2 linked regions of the Homo sapiens genome follow. The protein of the gene in region 1 purifies or fractionates together with the protein of each later gene. This does not show direct contact. Each region holds a gene or a part of one and is shown in the gene's direction. Other genes may lie near its edges.

Evidence for each region.
Region 2: the proteins of FCRL5 (region 1) and ACP3 purify together in Homo sapiens (affinity purification with mass spectrometry; one large-scale study listed by BioGRID and IntAct). This does not show direct contact.

The regions. Positions count from the first base shown.
Region 1 is NC_000001.11:157,542,447-157,546,263, reverse strand, and holds part of FCRL5 (Fc receptor-like protein 5 isoform 1 precursor), read left to right. Parts: intron 1-1,181; coding exon 1,182-1,433; intron 1,434-1,717; coding exon 1,718-2,002; intron 2,003-3,126; coding exon 3,127-3,405; intron 3,406-3,817. UniProt on the Homo sapiens protein: Plays an important role in B-cell response to antigen that acts both as a negative or positive coreceptor.
Region 2 is NC_000003.12:132,355,181-132,359,432, forward strand, and holds the end of ACP3 (prostatic acid phosphatase isoform PAP precursor), read left to right. Parts: intron 1-1,505; coding exon 1,506-1,698; 3' UTR 1,699-3,661; downstream 3,662-4,252. UniProt on the Homo sapiens protein: A non-specific tyrosine phosphatase that dephosphorylates a diverse number of substrates under acidic conditions (pH 4-6) including alkyl, aryl, and acyl orthophosphate monoesters and phosphorylated proteins.

The DNA.
Region 1 (3,817 bases):
GCTGCCCAGGCTAATGTTGAACTCCTGGGCTCAAGTGATCTGCTCACCTAGGCCTCTCAAAGCGCTGGGATTACAGGTATGAGCCACTGCACCCGGCCTCTATGTATAGTTTTAAGTCACATTATTTACTTGGAATAATAAGTGGCAGGAGAATTGTTCATACTTATGGGTAGATAATGCATAGGTAGATAAATATACAGAGAAAGAAAGATAAAGGAAGAGACATTTCCTTCCTTGTCCTAAAGCCACCTGTTTTGAAGTTGAAGTTACATCATTTTTTAATGTAGTGGAAGCAGTGTACTAGCAAGGAATAAACAAAAATGTTTATACTCTTTGACTTAACAATCCGTCTCTTAAGAATTTGCCTACTGAAACAATCACAGATGTCCATCCCTGAAAATGGCAGACCTTAACATGGTTTAGAAAAAGAATACCTGGCCAGGCGCGGTGGCTTACGCCTGTAATCCCAGCACTTTGGAAGGCCAAGGCGGGTGGATCACGAGGTCAGGAGATTGAGACCATCCTGGCTAACACTATGAAACCCCGTCTCTACTAAAAATACAAAAAATTAGCCGGGCTTGGTGGCGGGTGCCTGTAGTCCCAGCTACTCGGGAGGCTGAGGCAGGAGAATGGCATGAACCCGGGAGATGGAGCTTGCAGTGAGCCGAGATAGCACCACTGCAGTCCTGCCTGGGTGAAAGAGTGAGACTCCGTCTCAAAAAAAAAAAAAAAAAAAAAAAACTCATTAAAGAAATTACATTACTGCCAGTGAAGGAAAACCGCAAACATTAAAAATCAGGTTCAATAATGATACTAATGATGTAGGAAAGTGTTCATAGCATAGTAAGTGAAAGGAAAGTTATCAAATCTACAAATATTAATATTATTCCATAAAAGAAATACGCATGAGCTCCAAGTACTTGAAAGTGGAAGAGAAAACTGGAAAAACATATGCCAAAACATGGGTGGTGAGATGGTAGGTGATTTTACCTACATTTCTGCTTTTCAACTTTTCTTAAGGTGTATGTGTTCATTTTTAAATCAGAAAAAAAGAAATGATAATTATTTTAAGAGTTCTTTTTCCCAACCCATTTTTTTAAAATAAAATCTACTTGGAAAAACAATGAAAAGAAAGGGGAAACAGTAGGATGAACCAAATAACTCTATTGTGTTTCTCATAGCTTCGCTGATCCTGCAAGCTCCACTTTCTGTGTTTGAAGGAGACTCTGTGGTTCTGAGGTGCCGGGCAAAGGCGGAAGTAACACTGAATAATACTATTTACAAGAATGATAATGTCCTGGCATTCCTTAATAAAAGAACTGACTTCCATATTCCTCATGCATGTCTCAAGGACAATGGTGCATATCGCTGTACTGGATATAAGGAAAGTTGTTGCCCTGTTTCTTCCAATACAGTCAAAATCCAAGTCCAAGGTAAAGCCTTCATTATTTTGTGAAGTGAGTTGGTCAAAAGGAGATTCCTTGGGGTCATAGAGATAGAACAGGAGGAAAAGGGTGGACTGGAATACCACTAAACCACAGGACACATTCCTGCAAGGAGCAGAGGAAGTATAGTAGTGTTTTGGGCTGAAGGAAGCTAGGGATCAATGGCATTCCTTTCTTTGCCTGCTTTTGGATGTGCTGCTGCTTGAAGTGTGCTTTTCTCCAAAGCAGTTCCAGCCTCATTGCTCTGGGACTGTTGTGATTCTTCTCTCTAGAGCCATTTACACGTCCAGTGCTGAGAGCCAGCTCCTTCCAGCCCATCAGCGGGAACCCAGTGACCCTGACCTGTGAGACCCAGCTCTCTCTAGAGAGGTCAGATGTCCCGCTCCGGTTCCGCTTCTTCAGAGATGACCAGACCCTGGGATTAGGCTGGAGTCTCTCCCCGAATTTCCAGATTACTGCCATGTGGAGTAAAGATTCAGGGTTCTACTGGTGTAAGGCAGCAACAATGCCTTACAGCGTCATATCTGACAGCCCGAGATCCTGGATACAGGTGCAGAGTAAGTGTTGGTGGAACCTGAGATTTGCTGCAGAGAGGGCTGGAAAAGTGGGACAGGGCTGCATATCAGCGTGGGTCACCAGTCTCTGTAGAAAAAACTCGTACCTGTGAGAATGGGAGTTGTGCAAGCAAAGAGACCTCTACTCTTGTGAACATCTTAGAAGAGCTTAGACCCAGGAAAATCCAAGAAAAGAAAGGTCTAATTTTTTTTCTTTCAATGCCATTAAATACAATTCTTTCTTTTCTCTCGCAGGGTTCTCTTCCCTGACATCATTTTTTTTTCTTCTAGGCCCATAGGGATAAGCCATGGGCTGTGGCATAGCTCTCTGACTCTGGTGTACAGAGGTATCTGTTGTCCCAATTAACATTACTTATTGACAATAACCAAAGTGAAAATTTCTGTAGGATACAAAGACAGGTTGCAACATTATAGTTACTCCAAATATGTGACTCTGGAGGTTTACCATTCCCTAGTTATGAGTACAAATATGCACCCCAGATTACATCACCTCCCTTACTAGTATACAGCACCATCCTTCCTTCAAAGCTATTATGGTAGTTACAGTGATGAGGGAAAAACAGCTTCTGTAGAGCCCTGTGTCATCCCTCCACTCATGGCAAACTCCGGGCTCACTTATAAGGAGGCAATGTGATCATCACCAGACTAGGAGTCAGGACACCAACTCTGGCCCTGGCTGGCCCTGAAAACAGCCTACACAGGCAGGTCTCCTAGTCTCTCCTTGACTCAGTTTTCTCACCTGTAAATAAAGAAGGTCAGTCTGGGCCAAGGGAGAGAGTAGGAGCAGAAGAAAAAGCTCTAGAAGACTATGCTAATCTTTAAGGAAAAACTAGCAATGGCAAATAAATCCCTGAGGCCAATGCAAGTGAAGGAGAAATAAACAGGGATAGGAAAGAAGACTCAGAATAATTGGGCACTTCAGGTGCAACATTCCATAGTCATAGGGCAGAAGGAAGGAGCAAGAAGCAGGTGCAGGTAAGGGTGTGTGGTTCTGATGGCAGCAAGTTAAGGGTGGAGACTGGAGACTGGGCATTTGCACTGGCCATGCCTTGTAATCTACAGTAAGAGGCAAAAGCAATTCTTGACTAATTTTTTCTCTTGCTCAGTCCCTGCATCTCATCCTGTCCTCACTCTCAGCCCTGAAAAGGCTCTGAATTTTGAGGGAACCAAGGTGACACTTCACTGTGAAACCCAGGAAGATTCTCTGCGCACTTTGTACAGGTTTTATCATGAGGGTGTCCCCCTGAGGCACAAGTCAGTCCGCTGTGAAAGGGGAGCATCCATCAGCTTCTCACTGACTACAGAGAATTCAGGGAACTACTACTGCACAGCTGACAATGGCCTTGGCGCCAAGCCCAGTAAGGCTGTGAGCCTCTCAGTCACTGGTAAGCCCTGCATTCCTGCCAATCACCCACCCCTGGCCAAGAGTCCTGCCTCACCCTGCCCTTCGGAAGTCAGCATATACCTTCCAGTATCCTCAGTTTCTTTCTTGGGAAAACCTAATGTCCTCCTCCACTCTCCGGCTCACTGAACCAGCTGTCTGCCTCTTGAGTCTCGTTGCATTGCAGTCTAGGTGCCCTTATACCCCTGCCTGATGGTGCAGTGGCTTTCTATCCCCTGGTTCCCAATTTCTGAGAAGCCAAGTGCTTTTCTTGTGCTTTCCACTTGTCCTGTGGCTCCCCAGATGACTGATTTTCATTCACTATATTATTCTCAGTAGACACAGACTCAATTTCCAGGAGCACAGAGGTATCTCCTGTTCTGTTAATATCAGACATTAATCAATAAACCAAAGGC
Region 2 (4,252 bases), on another chromosome or scaffold:
TTATCAACCACGTCAGCCTTTTAAAGGGGACACATATCATTTCTGCTCACTTTCTACTGGCTAAATTAGTGACTTGGTCCTACCTAGGTACAACGTAGTCTTGGCAATGTGGTCACTTCTGAGCCATAATTCAATTCTATGGAAAGAGAATAACAGAGTTTGATGGAGTATTGGTCATCTAGGCCATATCATCTTAAGACAGAAGATGCTGTTACTGAAAAAGTTATTCCAAGATATAAGTACCCATTCATAATACATATTAGGGAGGTTTTTGTAAGTTTTATAGACATCTTATTTTATTTTATCTTATTTTATTTTATTTTATTTTATTTTTATTTTATTTTATTTTATTTTTGAGATGGAGTCTCGCTCTGTTGCCCAGGCTAGAGTGTAGTGGCGTGATCTCGGCTAACTGCAACCTCCACCTCCCAGGTTCAAGTGATTCTCCCGCCCCAGCCTCCCAAATAGCTGGGACTATAGGCATGTGCCACCACACCCAGCTAATTTTTGTATTTTTAGTAGAGACGGGGTTTCACCGTGTTAGCCAGGATGGTCTCGATCTCCTGACCTCGTGATCCACCCGCCTCGACCTCCCAAAGTGCTGGGATTACAGGCGTGAGCCACTGCGCCCAGCCTTATAGACATAAGTGAATATTTGCTGTTACTATGTTTATATGGCTTTTTAAAGTGATGTTTTAAAAGGCTTGTTTATAATGACAACCAAAAGTAGCCATTGTAAGGTTACACCAAAAGAAGGATCTCTAAATCCTTCTTGAGTTCCCCTCCTGACTCCTTGATTAGCAAATGGCTTCCATAAGCAACTCACGCTGGTTTAACTCAGGTTAGTTTACACCATTGGACCTTCCCAAATAGTACATTGTTTTTTTGAGATAAAGCATTGAGAGAGCTCTCCTTAACGTGACACAATGGAAGGACTGGAACACATACCCACATCTTTGTTCTGAGGGATAATTTTCTGATAAAGTCTTGCTGTATATTCAAGCACATATGTTATATATTATTCAGTTCCATGTTTATAGCCTAGTTAAGGAGAGGGGAGATACATTCAGAAAGAGGACTGAAAGAAATACTCAAGTAGGAAAACAGAAAAAGAAAAAAAGGAGCAAATGAGAAGCCTAAAAAGAAGGGAGGAGGAGAAGGAAAACCCAACACCCCCACCTGCCTCCCACTTCTTATCCAAAGGCTCAAAGTCCCACCCAGCTCCCTGCAACCATCACTTCTCACCACCTCCTCTGATTTAGCATCCTGGTGCCTACCTCCTATGTCCCTGTTCATCTAACAAACCAGCCCTCCCATTTCCACCCTGCAAATCTCTCCCGCCTGCCCCAGTCTCCCCATTTACACACCTAAATTGGCTAAAATCTCCCCATAAGTTTTTCCATTAGTCCCTCAACTGGCATGTAATAGTCCAAGTGGAAAGAAATTCAGTGGCAGTTCAACAACACAGAACTAACAGAGCTCTCTCCTCTGCCTTTGTCTGCCAGGGAGTACTTTGTGGAGATGTACTATCGGAATGAGACGCAGCACGAGCCGTATCCCCTCATGCTACCTGGCTGCAGCCCCAGCTGTCCTCTGGAGAGGTTTGCTGAGCTGGTTGGCCCTGTGATCCCTCAAGACTGGTCCACGGAGTGTATGACCACAAACAGCCATCAAGGTACTGAAGACAGTACAGATTAGTGTGCACAGAGATCTCTGTAGAAGGAGTAGCTGCCCTTTCTCAGGGCAGATGATGCTTTGAGAACATACTTTGGCCATTACCCCCAGCTTTGAGGAAAATGGGCTTTGGATGATTATTTTATGTTTTAGGGACCCCCAACCTCAGGCAATTCCTACCTCTTCACCTGACCCTGCCCCCACTTGCCATAAAACTTAGCTAAGTTTTGTTTTGTTTTTCAGCGTTAATGTAAAGGGGCAGCAGTGCCAAAATATAATCAGAGATAAAGCTTAGGTCAAAGTTCATAGAGTTCCCATGAACTATATGACTGGCCACACAGGATCTTTTGTATTTAAGGATTCTGAGATTTTGCTTGAGCAGGATTAGATAAGGCTGTTCTTTAAATGTCTGAAATGGAACAGATTTCAAAAAAAAACCCCACAATCTAGGATGGGAACAAGGAAGGAAAGATGTGAATAGGCTGATGGGCAAAAAACCAATTTACCCATCAGTTCCAGCCTTCTCTCAAGGAGAGGCAAAGAAAGGAGATACAGTGGAGACATCTGGAAAGTTTTCTCCACTGGAAAACTGCTACTATCTGTTTTTATATTTCTGTTAAAATATATGAGGCTACAGAACTAAAAATTAAAACCTCTTTGTGTCCCTTGGTCCTGGAACATTTATGTTCCTTTTAAAGAAACAAAAATCAAACTTTACAGAAAGATTTGATGTATGTAATACATATAGCAGCTCTTGAAGTATATATATCATAGCAAATAAGTCATCTGATGAGAACAAGCTATTTGGGCACAACACATCAGGAAAGAGAGCACCACGTGATGGAGTTTCTCTAGAAGCTCCAGTGATAAGAGATGTTGACTCTAAAGTTGATTTAAGGCCAGGCATGGTGGTTTACGCCTATAATCCCAGCATTTTGGGAGTCCGAGGTGGGCAGATCACTTGAGCTCAGGAGGTCAAGATCAGCCTGGGCAACATGGTGAAACCTGGTCTCTACATAAAATACAAAAACTTAGATGGGCATGGTGGTGTGTGCCTATAGTCCCACTACTTGTGGGGCTAAGGCAGGAGGATCACTTGAGCCCCGGAGGTCGAGGCTACAGTGAGCCAAGAGTGCACTACTGTACTCCAGCCAGGGCAAGAGAGCGAGACCCTGTCTCAATAAATAAATAAATAAATAAATAAATAAATAAATAAATAAATAAAAACAAAGTTGATTAAGAAAGGAAGTATAGGCCAGGCACAGTGGCTCACACCTGTAATCCTTGCATTTTGGAAGGCTGAGGCAGGAGGATCACTTTAGGCCTGGTGTGTTCAAGACCAGCCTGGTCAACATAGTGAGACACTGTCTCTACCAAAAAAAGGAAGGAAGGGACACATATCAAACTGAAACAAAATTAGAAATGTAATTATGTTCTAAGTGCCTCCAAGTTCAAAACTTATTGGAATGTTGAGAGTGTGGTTACGAAATACGTTAGGAGGACAAAAGGAATGTGTAAGTCTTTAATGCCGATATCTTCAGAAAACCTAAGCAAACTTACAGGTCCTGCTGAAACTGCCCACTCTGCAAGAAGAAATCATGATATAGCTTTGCCATGTGGCAGATCTACATGTCTAGAGAACACTGTGCTCTATTACCATTATGGATAAAGATGAGATGGTTTCTAGAGATGGTTTCTACTGGCTGCCAGAATCTAGAGCAAAGCCATCCCCGCTCCTGGTTGGTCACAGAATGACTGACAAAGACATCGATTGATATGCTTCTTTGTGTTATTTCCCTCCCAAGTAAATGTTTGTCCTTGGGTCCATTTTCTATGCTTGTAACTGTCTTCTAGCAGTGAGCCAAATGTAAAATAGTGAATAAAGTCATTATTAGGAAGTTCAAAAGCATTGCTTTTATAATGAACTTAGAAAAACGTATGTGTGTGTGTTTAATTAGAATAAAATTCCTCTAGGCAGATTTCAGGAGCTCCCTTTGTGTTTGGGGTTTTTGTTTTAGTATAACAAGATGGAAAATATTAATATAAAGTAAAATGATTTGACTGGCTTAAATGAACATTTTACATTGAAAATATAGTTTGGACTTTACCACTTCAGATAAAGGTGAAGCTGTGGATGGCTCTGCCTCATCTATTTAAGATGGAATTTGCTAAGGAAACACCCTCAGGAAGTGCACAATATACTAGGGAAGTAAAGAGATACATACTGTACAACATGGAAAAACCAGGGCTATGTCTTATGACTACACAGATTACTGTGGGAACAAGAGTTATCCAGATTTGGAGTAGGGGAAGTAAGGAAGGTCAGGAAAGGCTTTCTGCAGAAGGTAGCAACTGTACCACGTAAAATCAGTTTGAGGCCAGGCGAGGTGGCTCAGGCCTGTAATCCCAGCACTTTGGGAGGCCAAGGTGGGCGGATCACAAGGTCAGGAGATTGAGACCATCCTGGCTAACACGGTGAAACCCCATCTCTACTAAAAATACAAAAAGCCGGGCATGGTGGCGGGCACCTGTAGTCCCAGCTACTCGGGAGGCTGAGGCAGGAGAATGGCGTGAACCC